Linked DNA regions of Homo sapiens: region 2 is linked to region 1. The links come from fine-mapping of genetic effects on gene expression. A gene starts in region 1. The other region holds a variant in brackets. All regions are shown on one strand. Distances are between the middles of the regions. Region 1 holds the start of CDH13-AS2 (CDH13 antisense RNA 2). Region 2 overlaps CDH13 (cadherin 13).

Region 1 (8,459 bases):
TGCAAGATAACGTAATTATTTGCCCCTTCCCTTCCATGGCTTGTTAGCAGGTAGATGAGGGGCTTCTCCTAGATTAATTTAACATCTCAGTTAATCAAAAGTAGCCGGGCATGGTGACTCATGCCTGTAATCCCAGCCCTTTGGGAGGCAGAGGCGGGTGGATCACTTAAGGTCAGGAGTTCAAGACCAGCCTGGCCAGCATGGTGAAACCCTATCTCTACTAAAAAATACAAAAATTAGCTGGGTGTGGTGGTGCACACCTGAAACCCCAGCTACTCAGGAGGCTGAGGCAGGAGAATCGCTTGAACCCAGGAGGCAGAGTTTGCAGTGAGCCATTGCACTCCAGCCTGGGCAACAGAGCAAGACTCCGTCAAAAAAAAAAAAAAAAAAAAAGAAAGAAAAGGAAATTTATGAACTCCAGAGTACCCATTCACTACCAAACCAACTGAGGGGAGAGAAAACTGAGGGAGAAAGTGGGGTGGGGTCTCAAAGGGTTTGCACTGTGCTTTGCTATAAATCATTCAAAGGGGCAAATTCTAAAGGATCTCTAAGTAGTTGCTGATTTTGTAAAGGTAGCCCATAAATCTGTTTACGTGTAGCTGCCTTAAACATGAGTCAACAGGGTAAGTCACACCAACAGGAAACCCAAGCACTAAAAAAGCCACCTACCTTTTCTGTTTACCAAATACTAAGAATAATAATCTAATAATCTGGCTACATCTTTCATAAAGACCTCCATCTTCTCTCCTTAACTGACTGTTGAGATTTGATAATTTTCACAGTCTAATGATAAAATGCTTTCAAAATGGTTCATCTAACACAATTAACAATTCTTTTACTATATGCAATGTGTTACCCTTACTATATTTCCTATTGCTAATAGATTAGCCCACTATTGAAAAAATTCTGCAGTTGTGACCGTGTTCACATGAAAGCATATACAAGACATGGAGAGACAGCAAAAAATGGTGGGAATGGGTGTGTGTATGAGGGTTTCAGATAAGAACTTCAATTATATAATTTAAGAAGAGTCAGTCTATAATTTAAGCAGAAATAATTGAGATACTCATCAAATTAAGTAAGCGGAAAAATTTCCTCTCTCTCATACTATGTTGCTATCATCACATCTATCGTTGGAGGGTTGCTGAGCTTGATACGCCTTTGAACCATTTTATTTGACTTTCCACGTGCCGTCTCATTGGTAGGGAGATGGTGAAAAGCGTTGGGTGGTGTAGGACGAGGGAGGTTTTCACTCTGAAGCTATGAAGATTTGGAGAAAGGGGCTTATAGAAGCACTATGAAAATAAACTGGAGACTATTTTTTTGCTACTTTTTAAAAAGCTTTTTCTTTAGAGAGTACTAAAGCCATTCTATATCTGTCGTACACATGAATTCAGACTATTATTAGAGAGTTATATCTGTGTTGTCATGCACATGTCAACACTGTCCTGATGACAAAATTTTATGTATCCCCCCAGATAAAAATTTTAAGAAATTTTAAATGCTTTTTATTCACACACACTTTTCAAAAGGGATAAAAGTTAATCATGTTAAAATATTCAGTCTATGGCAGATGTCGCTCCTTTGGGCCCTCACTGCTGAATTGCTTACAGTTTCTGAGCTGTAAACTAACATTTGCTTTACTATGTAGTTACAGAGAAATGTGCAACTTGTTTGTGAAACATTCAAATAAAGCTTATCTGGGATTTTTAACTTGTGTGTTTAGTCTTAGACCATCTTTAGTACAGTCTGGTCTAAACACTGTGACAGAGCAAAGGGACCTTTTTTTCCAATGGTGCACAGTGTCATGGGTGCAACTGGCTGGTGCCGGTGTTGTGGATGGTAAAAGAATTTACCGGCAGGGCGTGGTGGCTCACGCCTGTAATCCCAGCACTTTGGGAGGCCAAGGCGGGCAGATCACCGGAGGTCAGGAGTTCGTGACCAGCCTAGCCAAAGTGGTGAAACCCCATCTCTACCAAAAATACAAAAATTAGCTGGGCACAGTGGCGCATGCCTGTAATCCCAGCTACTCAGGAAGCTAAGGCGGGAGAATCGCTTGAACCTGGGAGGCGGAGGTTGCAGTGAGCCGAGATAGCGCCGCTGCACTCCAGCCTGGGTAACAGAGTGAGACTCTGTCTCAAAAAAAAAAAAAAAGAAGAAGAAGAAGAAGAAGAAGAATTTACCAATTTACCAAGACAGTTGTAGGTAAAGAAAGGCTGATTATTCAAGGGAAAGTACGTTGCAAGGAAGCAACAGGCAGCACAGCAGAGAAGGGGATGTCTGGAAAGAGGCAGGGGCTGGAGGGAAGTTTTATAGGGTTGTGCTGGAGGATGTTACACTTGGAGTGAGGTAGTTGTGCCAGCGGCTTGTTTGTGATTAGCTGTCTCTTGGAACAGTTGTTCCCTACCTGGGACCCCCCTTCCTCATTGTTGCTTACTTATCAGGACTCCACACCAGGTTAGCCTATGATGTTTAAAAACCAAGACTAAAACCAAGTGCTGCCTGCTTAATAATTGGCTCTCTTCTGCTTCTTTCATAAAAGTCAATCATTCTGATTTGGAAAAACAGATATATAGATGATAGAAGGATAGATGGATAGATGATAGAGAGAGAGAGATAGAAAGAGAGAGAAGATAGCAAGAAGGTTAGTGAGATCATTTTGTAAAAAAAGGAGGGGGCCAGATGTGGTGGCTCACGCCTGTAATTCCAGCAATTTGGGAGGCAGAGGTGGGCCGATCACCTGAGGTCAGGAGTTCAAGACCAGCCTGGCCAACATGGAGAAACCTCGTCTCTACCAAAAATATAAAACTAAGCCAGGTGTAATGGTGGGCACCTGTAATCCCAGCTACTCAGGAGGCTGAGGCAGGAGACTCTCTTGAACCTGGGAGCCGGAGGTTGCAGTGAGCCAAGATAGTGCCACTGCACTCCAGCCTGGGCAACAGAGCAGAGCAAGACTCCAACTCAAAAGCGAAAAAAAAAAAAAAAAAGGGAAGGGGGTATTCGTTAAGTGCTTCCTACGGGCCGGATACTTTACGTATCTATATAGATGTGTATATACATATTACCTTGTAGTTATATTTGTAATTTATGTGTAATACATAATTATATATCATATACATAATTTATGTAATAGACATTAGCACCATTCTATAGATGAAGAAACTGAGGTTCACACAGTTAAAACTATCTCACAGTAGGTCTCACGACTACTAAGTGATATGCATGGCCCCACCCTGGCACTTTTCTTGCTATATGCTAAGGCAGCACCACCCCATTTATCTCCAGGAACAAACTGTGTCATCACAAACAATGCATGAAAGTGCTGAGGACTAAGCAAGTTGTCAATGATGGGGGATGAAGCAGAGGAAACCCAAACTTGCAAATCTGGTCTATAAGAAAACTTTCCTTCCCCCTAGGCAGTCTGTCTCCAGGAAACTGCTAGTTTGGGTAAATAAATAGCAAACGGATGCCTTGGCAGCCAGTCATAGAGACGCTAATTTGGAAATTTGCCTCAAAAGAACATAAGAAACAGAAACCAATGCTTCAATCCGAAAGCAAGAGAACGTGAAATTGTCAGAACAACCACCGATCACACCATTCTCCCCGAGAAAAGCAATTTTCTAGGTTTTTGTTTGTTTGTTTGTTGTTGTTTGATTTTTTTACAAACAAGTCCTCAAAGAGACCTCCTTGTGCTTTGGTAATGCGAGGCAAAATATCCACTCATTCTAACCAGGGCACACCCTTGAGAGGGTAGCAACGCTGGATTTTTACATGGGAATCCAAGCCAAGAAGACTGGTACCAGGATGGTGGTGTTTCTAGATTAAATCTGCCGTTCTGTGTCTGTAACTAAGCCCTACCTTTGCTTGGATGATGACTGTCGTGCCCCAGCCCCTCCTCGTGCCAGCGGGACAGCATCCTCCTCCTGAGGCTTACTAGCACCTGAAGGATTGTTCTGTGAAAAACAGGGACCCAGCACCTGCTGACATCCCTCAGCATCCTCTCTGAGTTTATCCCCACGGAGAAGAAGCAAGTCGATGTTACCCTGATGCAGTCATAGTTCCTGTGCTTCCCCTTATCAAATTTTGTAACCATGTTGTTTCACAGCACACGCAATGTCTTCACCCTTTGGCTCCCTGCCTTCTTTCAAGGCAGGATTTTCTAAACTTTAATCCCAAGGGAATATCGTCCCTATTTAGCCGTCTCCCTGTCTCATCTCTCAGCACCTTCACTAACTCTGCCACACTGAAATGCCACCTGTACCATCAGCTACAACTCTAGTTTTAAACTACGTAATTTTACATTTATAATTTTGGCTTGAATTTATTTTAAAAGAAGCTGGTACATTGGCCGGGCATGGTAGCTCATACCTATCAACCCAGCATTTGGAGAGGCCAAGGCAGGTAGGTAGATGGTTTGAGCCCAAGAGTTCAAGACCAGCCTAGACAACATGGCGAAACTCCATCTCTACAAAAAATACAAAGATTAGACAAGCGTAATGGTGCATACCTGTCGCAGGAGGATTGCTGGAGTCTGAGAGGTTGAGGTTACAGGGAGCCATGACTGCGCCACTGCACTCCAGCCTGGGTGACAGAGTGAGACCCTGTCTCAAAAAAAAAAAAGAAAAAAGAAAAAGAAAACTCTACATTATAACAACATGAATGAAAAACCAGTATCACTTGGAATACAATAAAGCAGCAGTAAAAATAAATACAATGAAAACAAACAAAAAAGCATAATTACCTTTTAGCTGGATACTATGTCTACTTAAGGTCTGCGTATGAAACTCTCTGTATTAAAATGAGAGATAGATAAGGATTAGAGAGGTCTCAAAGACACAGTAATATCCACCTGAGACCCTCTGCTTGTCAGGATCACTCAAAGAGAAATGAAAATGGAATGAATGAATGTCAACCGTGTGAGTCAGGCTTTTGTATCACCTGTCCACACAGCACCTAGAACCATTTTAGTAGAAGCAAAACAAGCAAAGTTGCATGAACAGGAGGTAAGGAAGTGGATCAAGTAACTAAGACAATAAGTCCTTCCTTTCTAGAAGCTCCCCTATGAGCAGTAGCTCAACAAGGGCACACAGTCAGTGGAGGTTCACCCTGGTTGGACTGGTTTCCATTTTCTATTTGTTTTTTGTGCAGCGGGGGTGGGGCGAGGGGTTGGTCACTTTTATGTGCTGAGAAGGAGGAATCATTGGAAAAAAGAAAATGAATGCAGGAAGCAAGTTCCTGGAGTTGAGGAAAGAGAATGGGATCAGGGCCCAGGTCTCTCTGCCTTAGACAAACGCAGAGCCCTGTGCGCGAGGAAGAACACTGCTTCCTGAGACAGAAAGGATCGTTAGCTAGTGACACGGGGGTTAATGTAGGAACTTAGGAATGCACGCAGGACGGGAGTTAAGGGGTTTTGATGGACAGTCTCCATTTTCTCCACAAAATAGAATATAAGGTCATCCTCTGAGGGTGAAGGGGATAAAGTCCTGGATTTGGGGGGACCAGAAAGGTTTGGAATGGCTACTGAAGGGCCAGGGCTAGGGCAGCCCAGGTCACTAGAAGGAAGGGGCACCCTTCACTGACCCTGCTGTGGCACCGCCCATCAGGTGAAGGTTGCTCAGCAGCAGCATGAGGCAACCTGGGAGGAAAGCAAACCAGGGGAGCAGCTGCTGGGCCCCAGGGCTGGGCCTACAGAGCTGACGCAGGTGCAACTAGGCAAAGAACATTCCAGTTCCTCCAAGGCCCCGCTAGGATCATTCCATCGCTGCTCACACAAGGCAAACGCACAAAGCACCTCATTGCATGTGGTCACATGGACAGACCAACACCTTCCATAGTGTATTTTATTATTACTGTTTTTTGAGACAGAGTCACAATCTGTTGCCCAGGATGGAGTGCAGGGGATAGATCTCGGCTCACTGCAACCTCTGCCTCCCCAGGTCAAGCGATTCTCCTGGCTCAGCCTCCTGAATAGTTGGGATTACAGGTGCACGCCACCTAGCCCAGCTAATTTTTGTATTTTTAGTAGAGATGGGGTTTCGCCACACTGGCGAGGCTGGTCTTGAACTCCTGGTCTCAAGTGATCTGCCTGCCTCAGCCTCCCAAAGTGCTGGGATTACAGGCATGAGCCACCATGCCCAGCCACCTATCATAGTACAGATCCAAGAAAGGAGGCATGTCAAAAGAATGGCCCAGAGAACCAAAAAGCAATTATAAAAGTACCATAATAAGCGCACGTAAAACAAAACTGTCTTGAATGGAAAAAGGGAGTTACAACATGCAATTAATCTAGGAAGAGCTTTAAAAAAAAAATGCCAAGAGGAGGTAAGACAACTATGACACTTAAATAAAGGTTAAAAATGAGAGTTGTTCAAAACCGAAGTTTAAAGGTTAATTACTGGTGCCTTACACGTAATACATTAGTTTTGTTAATGGGACAATATTCAGTTAGGTTCGGTGTGTCAGCCCCACAAGGTGAGTATGTCAGCCATGAGTATAAATTAGTGAAGCTTCCGTGAAAAGCAGCCCTTTAACAGACCTTGGTCTCCACACAGAGAAAGCATACTGCCTGTCTGTTTAAGTGCAAAAAATAAAGGAACAAATAATGCCTCCACTAAAAGAGTATCAAGTTTGTTTGTTGTTCATGTAAAGCAAATTTCCAATTGGAATTTGAAAAAAAAAAACCACAAGTGTCTTACCAGAAAAGGAAAGAAAAACTCCAGATTCTCGTGCTAATTCATGTTCCTGAGTTGCCCACAGCCATAAGACAGGTTTGCTCAGAGATCCAGGGTGCAGGCACCCAGCTTTCTTTGCTGAGTGTGGGAGTCCCAGGGATTGGGGTCTAAAGTCAGAAGCCTGAGGGCTTTCTTCACCTTGGCTATTCACTAGTTTTTAAGGAGTTCTGAAGTTTTATGAAAAGTCTTTTACGATTAGCTGGGCATGGTGGTGCTCACCTGTAATCCCAGCTACTCAGGAGGCTGAGGCAGGAGAATCGCTTGAACCGGGGAGGCGGAGGTTGCAGTGAGTCGACATGGTGCCACTGCACTCCAGCCTAGGCAACACAGCAAGACTCCATCTCAAAAAAAAAAAAAAAAAAAAAAAAGTCTTTTAAGAAAACTGAGATACTGGCATCTAGTAGGTAGAAGTCAGAGATGCTGCCCAACGTCCTACAATATACAGGGTGCCCCCTCCACCACCAACAATAAAGAACGACTTGACTCAAATGCCAGTATTGCAGCTCTTGAGAAACTCTGCTCTAAGCTCAAAAAACTCAGAGAATTCTAGAATGGTGAGAAAAAAGGAGAAGATGCAGAGTCAGGAAGTCCTGCGTCTCTTACTTCCTTAATTTGATGACCTTGTTCCAGTTTCTTAACGCCTCTGCATCTGTTTTCTCAAAAATGTAAAATTATGATAATTATATCACAGGGTCTTCTGAGGATTAACTTAAAACACTGAGATATTTTTATTTCAAGTAGTCGGGTAAAGCACTAGCCAAATACCAGTTGACAACAGCCAATTACAAAAAAGTTGTGTATACTTACACAGAAAGGAAGATCTCTCTATAGGAAAGGATGAGGTGTGAAGGGTGAGGGGCAAAGGTGTGAGTGAGGGGGAAGGGGTGGTAAAGGGAGTTGAAGTCTCATGCCTCAAGGCCAACTGGATTCCGGGTTTGTTAGAGACACTGGTGGGTCTGGCAGAGGCGTTTGAACAAGAGCAACTCCATCTCGAATAGGAGCTGGGTAAACTGAGGCTGAGAACTACTGGGCTGCATTCCCAGACAGTTAAAGGATTCTAAGTCACAGGATGGGATAGGAGGTCAGCACAAGGTACAGGTCATAAAGACCTTGCTGATAAAACAGCTTGCGGTAAAGAAGCCGGCCAAAACCCACCAAAACCAAGATGGCAATAAGAGTGAACCCTGCTTGTCTTCATTGCTACACTCCCATTACCGCTATGACAGTTTACAAATGCCATGGCAACGTCAAGAAGTTACGCTATATAGTCTAAAAAGGGGAGGCATGAATCACCCACCCCTGGTTTAGCATATAATCAAGAAATAACTATAAAAATGAGCAACCAGCAGCCCTCAGGGCTCTGTCTATGGAGTAACCATTCTTTTATTCCTTCATTTTCTTAAACTTGCTTTCACTTTACAGACTCGCCCTGAATTCTTTCTTGCATGAGATCCAAGAACCCCCTCTCTTGGGGTCTGGATCAGGACCCTTTCCCGTAACAGCTCTAACACCTTACAGCCTCTCCCTAGCTAAAGTCAAACTGGAGCTGACCCCTCACATAGCACAGTCCTTAAATGAGATGTGTGAAAGTTTCCAGAACATGCCAGGCCCGCAGTCAAGGACTCTCCTATCCCCTTGCCATGAGACCCAATCCTAAAGACCACCTGTGGGGTTGGAACTTGAGGTTCCAAATCAGCAGTGCCCACCTCCTTCAACACCCAAACCCAC
Region 2 (12,928 bases), 75 kb before region 1:
AGTGGTTTAGCAGGGCTAGCAGGACTAGCAGGACAAGACAGAGTTTGAATGAGATCGTTGCATCTAAGTGGAATAAGGAGAAGCTGATAATGCAAGAAGGTCAACCATCTCACACACATCTAGGGACCGTGGGGAAACCCATTTTGCTAGAGTAGAGAGATTGGATGAGGAAGTACAGGCTGCACCCTGGAGCCAAGCTAAGTAAACTGGACTTCATTCTGAACTGGGAGTGGAGGGGTCCATGTGCAAAAGAGCACTGTGGGAGGATCCAGGGGACACTGGAGCCCTGGAGCTTGTTAGGAAGCAAGCTACTCATTCCCAGGGAAGAAAGAGGAGGACTCAGAGTGGGGAGGAGTGTGCCACATGAAAGGTGCCCACAGTATTCAAATCCCAACTTCGCTGCCTGCTAATTATGTGAACCGATGCTGGCTACACAATCTCTCTGAGCCTTGCTATTCTCATCCCTGAAATGGCAATAGTAATCCCAGCCTCAAACAATGATAGTTAAGATTATATGAAATATCATGCATGTAGTGCCAGCTACATATGTACAGTGTCCAACCCCACAAAGGGGATCCCTGTTATTCGTAGGGAGATGGTGTAGCAGTGTTGCCCTAGAGCCAATTCATAGCAGTTTGCAGGGGCCAGTTGTTACCATCTCTTTGTAGCTGTGCATTCAGTGACATCGTGGGAGTAACTCGAAACTGGCCACATTGGAAATACTTCTATCATGGAATTAGACAAACACTATTAATTCAAGCTTTCCCCACCTCCAGAGAATCAGATGTTAAACATTTGCCAGTGTTCCTCTGGCAAAGAAAAGGAAAATAGCCAGAGGTAAGTGAAATCAAATGAGAGAAGTCTAACCTTGCAAAACTGAGCCAACTGCACTGATGTATCCTGTTGTCTGTCCCACACCCTCGCAAGGCTTTTGGTCTTTGTCCAGCAGAGTCACCACGTCTTATTCAGGTTACAGTGCTGAGCTATTTGGAAACCAGGCTGGGGGGGTGGATTTCAATGTCATCTTACTAAAAAAGTTCACTAATGAAAAGTGTATTGCTAAGACAGCAGCTTCATATTTCTCCCAGTCTTTATCAGCAGCCATGGATTGAATCGTTGACTTGATTTTACTACACTGAGGTCCCACTGAGGAAGGCCAAGTTCCTAAATCATGCACCTGACAGGTGCCATATTTCTGAGCACAGAGCTGAGCTGTGACCTTCTAGTTTCACAGTAACTAGAGCTGGGTGACATGCTTAATAAAGGGAGTACATGGTGCATTTTTAAAATATGGAATGAAGGTGGAATCATGCAGACATGTCAGTCTGAAACTGGTTACCAGAAGCAAGGTGATCAATCTTCCTGCCTGTCTTAGGATGCTGATGTGAGAAGCACGATGACTTTCACTTGGCAGAAGGATTTGGAAGTATCTGGGCTTGATAAGCTACCTCATGCCAAGGACCATGCTCTGTATACGACTTCATCTTTTCACCCACCCTATGAGTGAGGTTTTAGTGTCTCCATTTCACATATAGAGAAGTAAAAGCTTGGAAGGTTAGCACCTCTCTCCATGTCCCACAGATACTAAAGGGCTGAGCCAAGATTTGAGTGTGCTTTTGTCTGATTCGCCTCTGCTTGGCCCTCTGTCTCCAAGCTGCTGCTTAGCTGGAGGCTCCTCAGTGACATCAGCTCACTGTGGCTCCCTCTGCCTGGAATGTTCTCCCTTGCCCAGGCCTTCATGTGACTGTCTCCTTTTCACTTCAGTCTCACTATCATCTCCTTTGCAAGGCTTTCCCTGATCACCTTCGCTAAAGAAGCCCTCCTCAACTCTGCCCACCTGTCACTGGTCACTCCCTGTACTGTTGCCCAATGGGACGGCTTTCAGAGCACATACCACTCTCTGAAGTTATCGTATTGTGTGTTAACTATTTTTATGATCTCCCTTCCTCTTGTAGAACAGAAGCTCCATGAGAACAGGAATTTCATGCCTTGTTCTCTTTCATATATGCAGAGTAAAGAAGAATGTCTGACATATAATAGCTACACAATAAATATTGAAAGAATGAGGGGATGGGTGGACAGATGCATAGATCCATGGAAGAATGGATGGATGGATGGATGGATGGATAGATGGATGGATACATGAATTGATGGATGCATGGATAGACACATGGATGAGTGATGAATGCCTGGGTGGGTGATGAATGCATGGATGAATGTGGAATGCATGGATGGATGATGAATGCATGGGTGGGTGATGAACGCATGGGTGAGTGGTGAATGCGTGGGTGAGTGATGAATGCATGGGTGAGTGTGGAAAGCATGGGTGGGTGATGAATGTATGGGTGAGTGATGAATGCATGGGTGGGTGATGAATGCATGGGTGGGTGATGAATACATGGGTGAGTGATAAATGCATGGGTGGGTGATGAATGCATGGGTGGGTGATGAATGCATGGATGAATGTGGAATGCATGGGTGGATGATGAATGCATGGGTGGGTGATTAATGCATGGGTAGGTGATGAATGCATGGGTGAGTGATGAATGAATGGATGAGTGTGGAATGCATGGCTGAGTGATGAATGCATGGGTGGGGGATGAATGCATGGGTGGGTGATGAATGCATGGGTGAGTGATGAATGCATAGGTGAGTGAGGAATGCATGGGTGGATGATGAATGCATGGGTGGATGATGAATGCATGGATGAGTGTGGAATGCATGGGTGAGTGATAAATGCATGAGTCGGTGGATGAATGCATGGATGAATGATGAATGCATGAATGGATGGATACATGGATGGATGAAGTTGTACAAGCTCAAACCAGCTCAGATTGGAGGAAGCGTCTTACTTGAAGCCCCCTGTGACTATGTTGGGGCTTGTCTCCTACCATCTCACTGAAGGAGCCTATCTCCTAAGCTCTCTCCTAGACACCTGTATCCTTACTTTCCCCTCCCTTCCCAGCCTGAGCAGTGTCAGCGTCAGGAGCAAGATGATTGATGAAGTGTCAGCAGGGACACAACCAGCTGGGTGAGCAGGGGCTATATTGTAACCTGCAGCCAGGAGCTGCTCCCTTGAGATGGCCTTTGGGTACAACTCTATATGGCTTCCCAGCCTTTCTTCCAGCTGCAGGATCATCCTACCCCTGGGACTCCCTTATTGGTGTCCTCATTAGGCCAATCAATGCAAATTAAGCCCTGATTCACAGATAGTGGGGATATACAGTCACCACGACACATATGGCCTCTGTCATCCAGTTTCACTCAGTCTAGAGAAAGAAAGAGATGAATAAACAGACCCTTTTAGTATAAAAGCTATGATGAAAGTGACATTTGAGGTGAAAACACTACAATATAACAGCAGCAGAGAGAAAGGCACATCAGTCAAAGTCAAGGAAGGAAGGGACAGCTGGGCTCAGACTTGCAGGTAGACCAGGGCAAGGATGTTCAGGCAGAGGAAATGGGATAAACAAAGGCATGGTGGCCAAGAGAGCTAGATCCGTTCACTCAACACACAGGCAGGACTGCAACGGGTCTTGTGTATCCTGTGGATCTAATCTATCCTTAGGCGTCAGTCTGGGAAACATGAGTTCCGTCTTCTCCACTAATCTGGGAAGGAGGGTCAAGTGGTACCTCTGTCTCCACCTCCTCCAGGCCTACACAGTTTGTGACTGACATACTGAGCACCAGGTCTGCATCACCCACCTTATCACATGTGGGCACAGGATCTCTGCCGGGGGCAAGCGGTATGATGTGTCCTGGTCACGGTCTGGCTGGTGATTTGGTTACATCCAGACACGGAAGTCGACCTAGAATAACCTAAGACAAAGGCAGTCGTTTCTCTGGCTGACATTGTCAGAACGTTAAACAACCAAAAACAGCAACAAAGTGATGGGCCAAGCAGGCAAGTTTGGGAACAGCTTTAATGACTAATTTCTAATGAGAGTTTCAAAACACTAATTTTCCAGAACAGAGAATCAAGTTGTGCTCATTTATAACCCGTCATCTGCAATGAGACAGAGGATATTTCTTTCTGTGTTGTCAGTTAACTTTCTGAGCTGGACAGAATACAAACTAGAAGAGGTGGGCCGTAAATCAGCTCCTTTGGAACTGATAAATGGATATTGTACAAATCCTGCATTTGCATTGGCTCTGAGGACATAAATCAATTCTCATGATCTTACTTTGGAAAAAAATTTCCCTTTGAAGTCAGACTGAGCGATTTATGTAGCATTCTTTCCTGACTTTATTTTTCTCAGCTTTTTAATGATTGTCTTTTCACTTTCTGCACTTACACAACATTGTAAAGTGTTGCATTTTCATGTAGAGAAAACTGGACCTTGGTCTGAATCTTCCCACAAGGGATAATTTTATAACTTTTTTGCTCAGCCATTGAATAACAATTGCTTTTGGAAAGATTGTCATAATGTATCAGTTAGAAGGCACCTTAGAGACCATCATTTCACATGACCTCTGTTTTTTAGATGGGGAAACTGAGGCCCAAGAGTGACAGTCATGTGCTGCAGGTCACAGGCCAAGTTTGTGACAAGACCGGGGTGTCTGTTCGGGTTTTGGAGAAACAAGGACCCTAGATAGGGTCCATTCATTCATTCATTTATTTATTTATTTGTTCATTCTCCAGACAAATCGTTATCTTGGCCCCTTCTGCTGCAGCCATTGCCACTAAGAAGGCAGGCCCTGCAGGGGAGACTCTGCACGTCTTTTGTTTGTTGAGTATTTGCTAAACGGGCAAAAAATGGAAGAAAAATCAAAACATCACTGTTGGCTGGGCACGGTGGCTCACGCCTGTAATCCCGGCCCTTTGGGAGGCCGAGGCGGGCAGATCACGAGGTGAGGAGATCAAGACCATCCTGGCTAACACGGTGAAACCCCGTCTCTACTAAAAATACAAAAAAAAATTAGCCGAGCGTGGAGGCGGGCCCCTGTAGTCCCAGCTACTCGCGAGGCTGAGGCAGGGGAATGGCGTGAACCCGGGAGGCGGAGCTTGTAGTGAGCGGAGATGGCGCCACTGCGCTCCAGCCTGGGGCGACAGAGCAAGACTCTGTCTCAAAAAAAAAAAAAAATCACCGTCCTTTTTTGGCGTTCTGTCAGTCAAGAGTATTCTGAAGACTATCGAGGGAGGAGTGTTTGGTTTGTGCCTTGTTTTGTTCTGTTTTAGCAGCCCTGGAAATCATGGATACCTCCCTTCCTTGAAGTTATCTTTCCCATGTATAACAGCTGTATTGATTTATGAGATATAATTCACATACCGTACAATTCACCCATTTAAAATATACAATTCAATGGTTTTTAGTGTAGTCACAGAGTTGTGCAACCATCACCGCCCTCGATTTTAGAACATTTTCAGCACCCTAAAGAGAAGCCCCATCCCCCTTAACCGTTAACGTGCTTCCTTCTCCCCACTGCTCTAGTGACCACTAACCAGCTTCCTGTCTCTGTGGGTTTGCCTAGTACGGACATTTCATCGGAATGAAATCAGCTAA[CAT/C]GTGATATCCTTAATGGTTTTGTAGCAGAAAGACATCTACGTGGGAAGGGACGCTGCTGAGTGTTTAGAGAACAGACACATTCATCATTTTATTGTATTTTCTCAACTTTAGAACAGTTTTCAAACATGTGGAAACGTTGGAAGAATTTTATAGCAAGCACCCTTTGCCCCATCACCGAGATTCTCCCAGCACATCTTCTTCTGCTTGCTTTATTTAGTGCACACCTATCCACCTGTTCCAGAGATCACCACTGCGGCAGTGGGTTCTCAAAGGAGAACCTTCCAACCTTCCCGCATTGAGAAAGAAAAATATCAGTTTTACTAAATGAAATATCAACATTGGAGATTTTATAAGCCGAGAATGTTAGTACATCAACATTAGAAGCCCTAAAAAATAAAATTGCATTCAAAGGCCAAAAAAGTCTTAGGCTTGCTAGCTCTCCAGGAAAGGCCTGTGTGTTCAGGACAGGAGGACTAAGGACCAAACAGGTTTGGGAATGACAGATCCCTTGACGGAACTGGCTGACAACTTTGCTCACCAGTCACAGCAGGGCAGCCCAGGGAGTGAACAGGGGCGTTGGCGGGGAGGGCAGCCATTCCCGCCCGCTGCTAATGGGCTCGCTTCTCAAAGGAGCTTTTGGGATTCAAGGGTTTAAGTATCAAGTTTGACTGATGGATTTGGAGGGAAGAATTGAAAACTGCCTGAGGGAAGGCGCTTTGCTTTTTCTTTTGTGAGGCAAAAGCTTTTGAAAACTGTGACTGTACAAAGAGCCACAGCTCCTCTGAGGAGTCTGTTATGCGGCAACACATACTCAGATGTGGACAGCAGTGAGCACGCTGCCTGGAAAGGGGGAACAGCACCGCGGGCAGGCTTCAGAGCCACACACCACGTCTCTGTCTCAGAGTCTATCCTCGACCACAGGGTTTAAGTCTTTGATGTGCACACTGGGCCCTGGAGAGAAGGTGCCTGTTCTCACGGGCTGACCCCACAAGCCTGTGAGCCGTAAGCGGTGTGATTCGCTAACAGTTGAATGGCACTGGCTATGTGTGTATGTGTATGTGTGTGCGTGTGTGTGTGTGTGTGTGTTGTGAAGATACATTTAGTTTGAGTCCCTATGAAACGAGGAGAAAAGGTCTTGACAAACAACAGTTCAATAGCTCCTGCCAATATGTGCAATGCAATTCTTTTTAGTGAGTGAATTAGGCTTGATAAGAACTACATTAAAGCTTCTGTTGGAAGAGGAATTCAAAATGCTCATCTTTGTAATTTACCCACTCAGTCACCAGTGTTTACCAAGTGCCAATGGAAGCCTGGAGAGAAGAGAAAGCAAAGATAAATAAGCGTGTCTCTCGGCCTTCAAAGCACTGTGCCCAGCAGGAAGGAAAGCACACAATTACGACATGCCGTTTTTATTGTATATATGTTTATATATTAGGTTGGGCCATGTGAAATTGCTGATGTGACGGGTTTTGACGAGAGAAATGGCAACTGTGTGGTTCAACCTAATATTTAGATAGTATTGTCTTAGCTCAGGCTGCCATAACCAAATACCACAGACTGGGCAGCTTGAATACAGACATGTATTACTCACAGTTCTGGAGGCTGGAAGTCCAAGATCATGGTTCTAGCTGGTTCAGTCTCTGGGGAGGGCTCTCTTTCTGGCTTGCAGACAGCCACCTTCTTGCTGTGTCCTCATGTAGCCTCATTTCCTTGGGGCATGTACCTGGAGGGTGGGGATTAGGGAGCATACAGGGTCTCCTTTTATAAGGATCCTCATCCTATCAGATCAGAGCTCCATCCTCATGACCTCATGTAACCTTAACTTCCTAAGGAGAGGCCCACCTCCAAGTACTGCCACAATGGGGGTTAGAGTTCTATCAACATCCGAATTTGGGGGGAACAGCAACAAATGTTCAGTTCACAAGTATAAAATGGATATATTATTTATGTGCATATACATCATATACTGTTACATATCATAGATAAGACATGCATATTATACATATGTGTATGTATATATAGTAAATATACCATCTATAGTAATAAGGTTTCACAAAGAAGAGAAAATGGAAATGTAGAGATATAAAGGAAATCATCTTTGTATTACTAGTCTTTTTATTGCCAAAAAAATTTTATTTGCAAAACAAATATAGGCTCATGGTAAAAATTTTAGCAACTGAGATAGGCAAAACTAAGAAAGATGTAAATCCCACTAGCCAGATACCACTACTCCTAAGACCCAGGTCAGACAGCGAGGCATCACTGTTAAGAGCATGGGCGCTATGGTTGGACAACTCTATCACTTACTAGCTGTGTGTCCTGGACCCAGCTACTTAGTCCCTCACCACCTCTGTTTCTTCATCTATATAATGGGTCAGTAATCCCACCCACATGAAGTTATTGTTAGACTTAAATAAGCTGACCCATGTAAAGTGCTTGGAAATTCCCTGGCACAAAGCAAGTGCTCAATAAATATTATCTGTGACTCTATTATTATCATCATCATGATCATAATTATTACCGCAACTGCCACTAGCATTCCCTTCCAAGGTATTTTCTCAGCCAGCAGCAGCAAATCTGTTTGGGATTGTATGTCAAGCCCTGTGAAAAAGAAGGGTTTGGCACACAGGGCTTCATACAAAGAGGGGTTTTGAAGCTGACCTGGCCATTGCCAAGTCATTACCGTGCTTGTGAGAAGGGGGCAGCGAGCCTGCCACATGTTTGCATGTGGACCCTCACGGTGCTATACACATACCTACCTACTATAAAGATTTACTTCGTATGTGTTGTCATCTTGTCATGCTGTGTTCATCATGGCTTTTAATGTCTACGTAGCATTCCATTATCACTTTTGATCAACAGTTCCCTGATTGATTTTTTATTTTTCTATAGTAAACATTGAAGGAGAAAATATAATTGTCGCTAAATATTTCAGCCAAATAAGTCTGAGCTATGCATTATTCTAAGGCCCTCTCTCAGATCTTCACAATGCAAATCTGAGTATTAAAGGCTCTGAGAATTCTTGCGCAAAGGGGGACCTCATTTGATGTTATTAACCTGGCATTCCCCAGTTTTGGAATGTGCTCCCTATAGCTATTTCTTTAAGCTAAATAATTAGAGGAAGAATTTCTGGGTCAAAGAATATGTACAGTTCCAAGAGATTTTCATTTGTTTCCCTCTAGAATGTTGTTTTAGGAACTGACAAACTTGGAGATACCTCCTTCTGGGCTAAACTGTGACTTTTTAAAATCACAATTCGATGAAAAGTTCAACACACTAAAATATACGGTGGTATTCTTTTAAAAAATTCATACAATTGAACTGGGTACAAAGGATCACCTGGGTTTTTTGTTTGTTTGTTTTTGTTTTGTTTTCGTTTTTTGGTTTGTGGTTTTTTTGAGCTTTTAGATTCAGGGGGTCCATGGGCAGGTTTATTACCTGGGTCTATTGCGTGTTGCTGAAGTTTGGGGTATGAGTGATCCCATCACCCAGACAGTGTGCATAGTACCCGATAGTTTTCAACCCTTACACCCCTTCCATGCTCCCCCTTCTAGTAGTCCCCAATGTCTATTGCTCCCATCTTTGTGTCTGTGTGTACTCAATGTTTAGCTCCCACTTAGAACTGAGAACATGCAGTATTTGGTTTTCTGTCCCTGTGCTAATTCGCTTAGGTTAATGGCCTCCAGCTGCATCCATGTTGCTGCAAAGAACACAATTTCATCCTTTTTCACAGCTGCATAGTATTCCATGGTATACACGCACTGCATTTTCTTTATCCATTCCACCATTGATGAGCACCTGGATTGGTTCCTTGTGCTTGCCATTGTGCATTGTGCTGTGATAAACATACAAGTGCATGTGTCTTTTTGGCAAAACAATTTATCTTCTTTTGGATAAACACCCAGTAGTAGGATTGCTGAGTCAAATGGTAGTTCTGTTCTAAGTTCTTTGAGAAATCTCCAAACTGCTTTGGACAGGGGCTGAACTGATTTACATTCGCACCAACAGTGTATAAGAGTTCCCTTTTCTCTGTAACCTGGGCAGCATCTGTCATTTTTTGACTTTTTAATAATAGCTATTCTGACTGGTGTGAGATGGTATCTCATTGTGGTTTTGATTTGCATTTCTCTGAGGATTAGTGACGTGGAGCATTTCTTCATATGTTTGTTGACCGCACGTATGTGTTCTTTTGCAAAGTGTCTGTTCATGTCTTTGACCATTTTGTAATGGGGTAGTTGTTTGCTTGTTGAGTTGTTAAAGTTACTTATAGATTCTGGATATTAGACCTTTGTTGGAAGCATAATTTGTGAATATTTCTTTCCATTCTATAGGTTGTCTGTTTATTCTGTTGATAGTTTCTTTGCCAATTTTTGTTTTTGGTGCAATTGCTTTTGGGGACTTTGTCATAAATTCTTTGCCAAGGTCAATGTGCAGAATGCTATTTCCTAGGTTTTTTCCAGCTGGATTCTTTTCTCGTCTTCTGGCAAGTCAGTTTAGAAGAGGTTGATTTATTCAGAAAGTATCCATTTTCTTTTTCTAGACTTCAGACAGGAAAATGTAAAATGAGCAAAATTCTCGTGTATAAACTAGCTCAAAGGTTTGTGGAAGATTTAAATGCTGCATGACAGGTAGCAGGTAGTCGATAAATGCCAGTTGTGAATATTGCTTTTCAGATTAAATAACAAGGCTGAAAGTAAATGTTTTGGACAGGCTAGCTATTCTTCATACATCCAACCTAAAGGTAATCATCCTGGTTTATTTATTTATTCAAAAAATATTGAAAAATTCACACTGTGAGCCGGGTCCTAACTAGCCCTGAGGATAGCAGTGAACAAGACAGTGTGGAGTTTCCATTCTAGTGGGAAGACCGGCAATGAACAAGCCAATGAATGTCTGATCACACAACCGGTGTGATTACAGCTTACAGCTCTTTCCCATGGGAGAGTCAACAGCTTAATGGGATGGAGAGTAACTGGAGAAGGCCACCTTAGATGGGCTGGTTAGGAGGGAGATGATGTGTGATCTGAAGAGTGATAATGAACCAGCCAAGGGGAGAGGTGAGGGGGAGAAACCAACAGCTAATGCAAAGGCTGGGACGATGGGAGAGCCTGGCTAGCTTTGGACTGGGGAACAGGGTGAGTTGATGGTGGGAGGTGAGCAGTGATCAGTCCCCAAAGCCACAAAGGTTTTGAAGCCTGAAAGGGACATGACGTACATTTTTTAAATCTCACTCTCCTGTTCTGTGAGCAACAGAATAGAGGACCCGGAAACTGTAGTAGGGTTCTGTTTCTACACTAGTGCTAATGTAGAACCTCCTACATCCAGAAAGATGATAGCAGAGCTGAGCCACATTCTTCCTGGCAACTGATGTTCCCACACGTAGAAACAGCTGGCATCCTCATACAGAGGGAGGCTTGCAGGCCCAGGATACATCTCATCCCCCTTGCTAATCTCAGTACTTGACACCCCTGACCTCACCAGGGGCACCAAACCCAACTGCTTCCTGCAGGGATTCAGCTGCACTTGTCATCACAGAGCCTTGAAATCCCTGGGGATATCAACTCCTTGGAATTCCAGGCTGCTCTTCCACTTGCTTCTGACACATTGACTTTTCTGCCCATTCACTCACCCATCTTTAACCAAGGCCTGTATGGCCAGACATGAGGCCACTCACTGCCTACATGAAGAGGGAAAGACAAAGTGTATCCCTGGGAGCTCGCTACCTTGTGTGAAAATTACAACATCAGATAGTAAATGCCTTGGTGAAGATACGCATCCCAAGGGCAGGAAGCTCCCCACCTTGATCACTGCAAACTCCCCAGTCCCTAACAGAATACTGGGAAGATAGAAGGTGGTCAAAGCGTATGTATGGAATGAACACTGGAAATCAGTACACAGGGCTGGGAATGTGTGATTCTGAGCACTCAGTGATGGAAATAACCCTCCAGCTCCTTCACAGAACAGCCAGCAGCATCACCTGTTTTGGTGATGGTGCCTCCGGATGATGATCCGTGAGCGCACACTGGACTCGTGCTCCTGGGTGAGCTCTCTCCTTGTGAAACCCAGATGCTTCTGTCTCCCAGGGACCCTGCAGCCCTCCCGGTAACCTGGCCTCCATCACGAATGCAGTCTCTATAGACGGTTGTCTATTAGGATGCCACTGGAGAGGGAGGTCCCGTCATCACCTAAGCTAAGCACAGCTGCCTCTAAGTACCTCCTTGCTTGGCAGCCGGCCAGACCACATTCACTGAGCTTCAAGTCATAATGCGAGGCTCAGCCATCTATCTCACTGTGGTCCCCGCTGCAGCTGGCTTCATTTATTGACTTCTTGAAAGTGGCAATATCCATGCTCAGCTTGGTCTGAGCTGGACTCAGAGACCCAGGTGCCAGAGCAAAGGCCATGGTGTGTCGGTTAATCACCCAATAAAAATAAACTCTGAGAACAAATACAGAGGGGTGATTAACTTTCCCATTCTGGTCTTCTGACATCCCAGTTTGCTCTCCCAGTGAGCGTGTTTCTTTGAGATAAACCACCCTGGGAAACTGATCACCTGTCCAGACACCACCATGCCTTGGCGTAAGTGGACAAAAGTGGAACGTGACCTGCAAGCAGCGCAGCCTGAGACTTAGGCAGAGAGCCCCCTGCCCCAGGTTCCATGCTGCTGAGGGCCTTATCAGAAACTCTGAAGCAGAGCACCAGACTATTTTATTCTGCTTTTTGCTCTTGTAATAAAGTGTTATTAGTGTTTAGTCACCAGATTAAACCCCAAAGCCTTACCTCCCCTCCTGTGACCATCCATGTACTCCAAATCATGAACCAAAAAACAGGGACCACCAACAGCCCTTACCAAAAGAAGACTGGAAGCACAAAAAAGCAACTTACCATGAATCAATTTAAAGTGAAGACCAAAGTGTGACTCAAAACTGAAAAAATATATGTATTTGGTTAAGATGTAATTGTTACCGAAGCACCAGGGGTTTGGTCTGGGTCCTGCTGTTCACTGCACAGAAAGCCAATCACTGAGACAAGACAAAAGCCAGGGAAGAAGGCTTTAATCGGGTGCTGCTGCAGCCAAGGAAATGGGAGGTCAGTCTCAAATCCATCTCTGAAATGAGGGGTTGATGCACCAGAGAGGAAATGTAACCGTGTTTGGGAAAACATGGATGAAATTGGAAATCATCATTCTCAGTAAACTATCGCAAGGACAAAAAACCAAACACCGCATGTTCTCACTCATAGATGGGAATTGAACAATGAGAACACATGGACACAGGAAGGGGAACATCACACTCTGGGGACTGTTGTGGGGTGGGGGAAGGGGGGAGGGATAGCATTAGGAGATATACCTAATGCTAAATGACGAGTTAATGGGTGCAGCACACCAGCATGGCACATGTATACATATGTAACTAACCTGCAC

Evidence for each region. PIP is the estimated chance that this variant, and not a neighbour inherited with it, causes the effect.
Region 2: its variant is fine-mapped to the expression of CDH13-AS2 in whole blood (TOPMed, PIP above 0.99).

What each region holds. Positions count from the first base shown.
Region 1 is chr16:83,798,928-83,807,386 of GRCh38, forward strand. CDH13-AS2 (CDH13 antisense RNA 2) reads right to left here and starts at 5,049. Exons shown (of 3, transcript NR_120308.1): 1 at 4,742-5,049; 2 at 4,508-4,601. It overlaps CDH13 (cadherin 13), which reads left to right. Exons shown (of 14, transcript NM_001257.5): 14 at 1-1,713. RefSeq lists a silencer at 3,306-3,465.
Region 2 is chr16:83,721,770-83,734,697 of GRCh38, forward strand. All of the region lies in intron 10 of CDH13 (cadherin 13), which reads left to right. It overlaps CEDORA (CDH13 antisense oligodendrocyte and neuron associated lncRNA), which reads right to left. Exons shown (of 4, transcript NR_188499.1): 2 at 7,099-7,230; 3 at 3,706-3,819; 4 at 1-63. Among named protein-coding and RNA genes, the nearest start is that of CEDORA, 45 kb to the right of the region's middle. RefSeq lists an enhancer at 6,169-6,669. The variant CAT/C (reference allele first, on the strand shown) is at 5,505.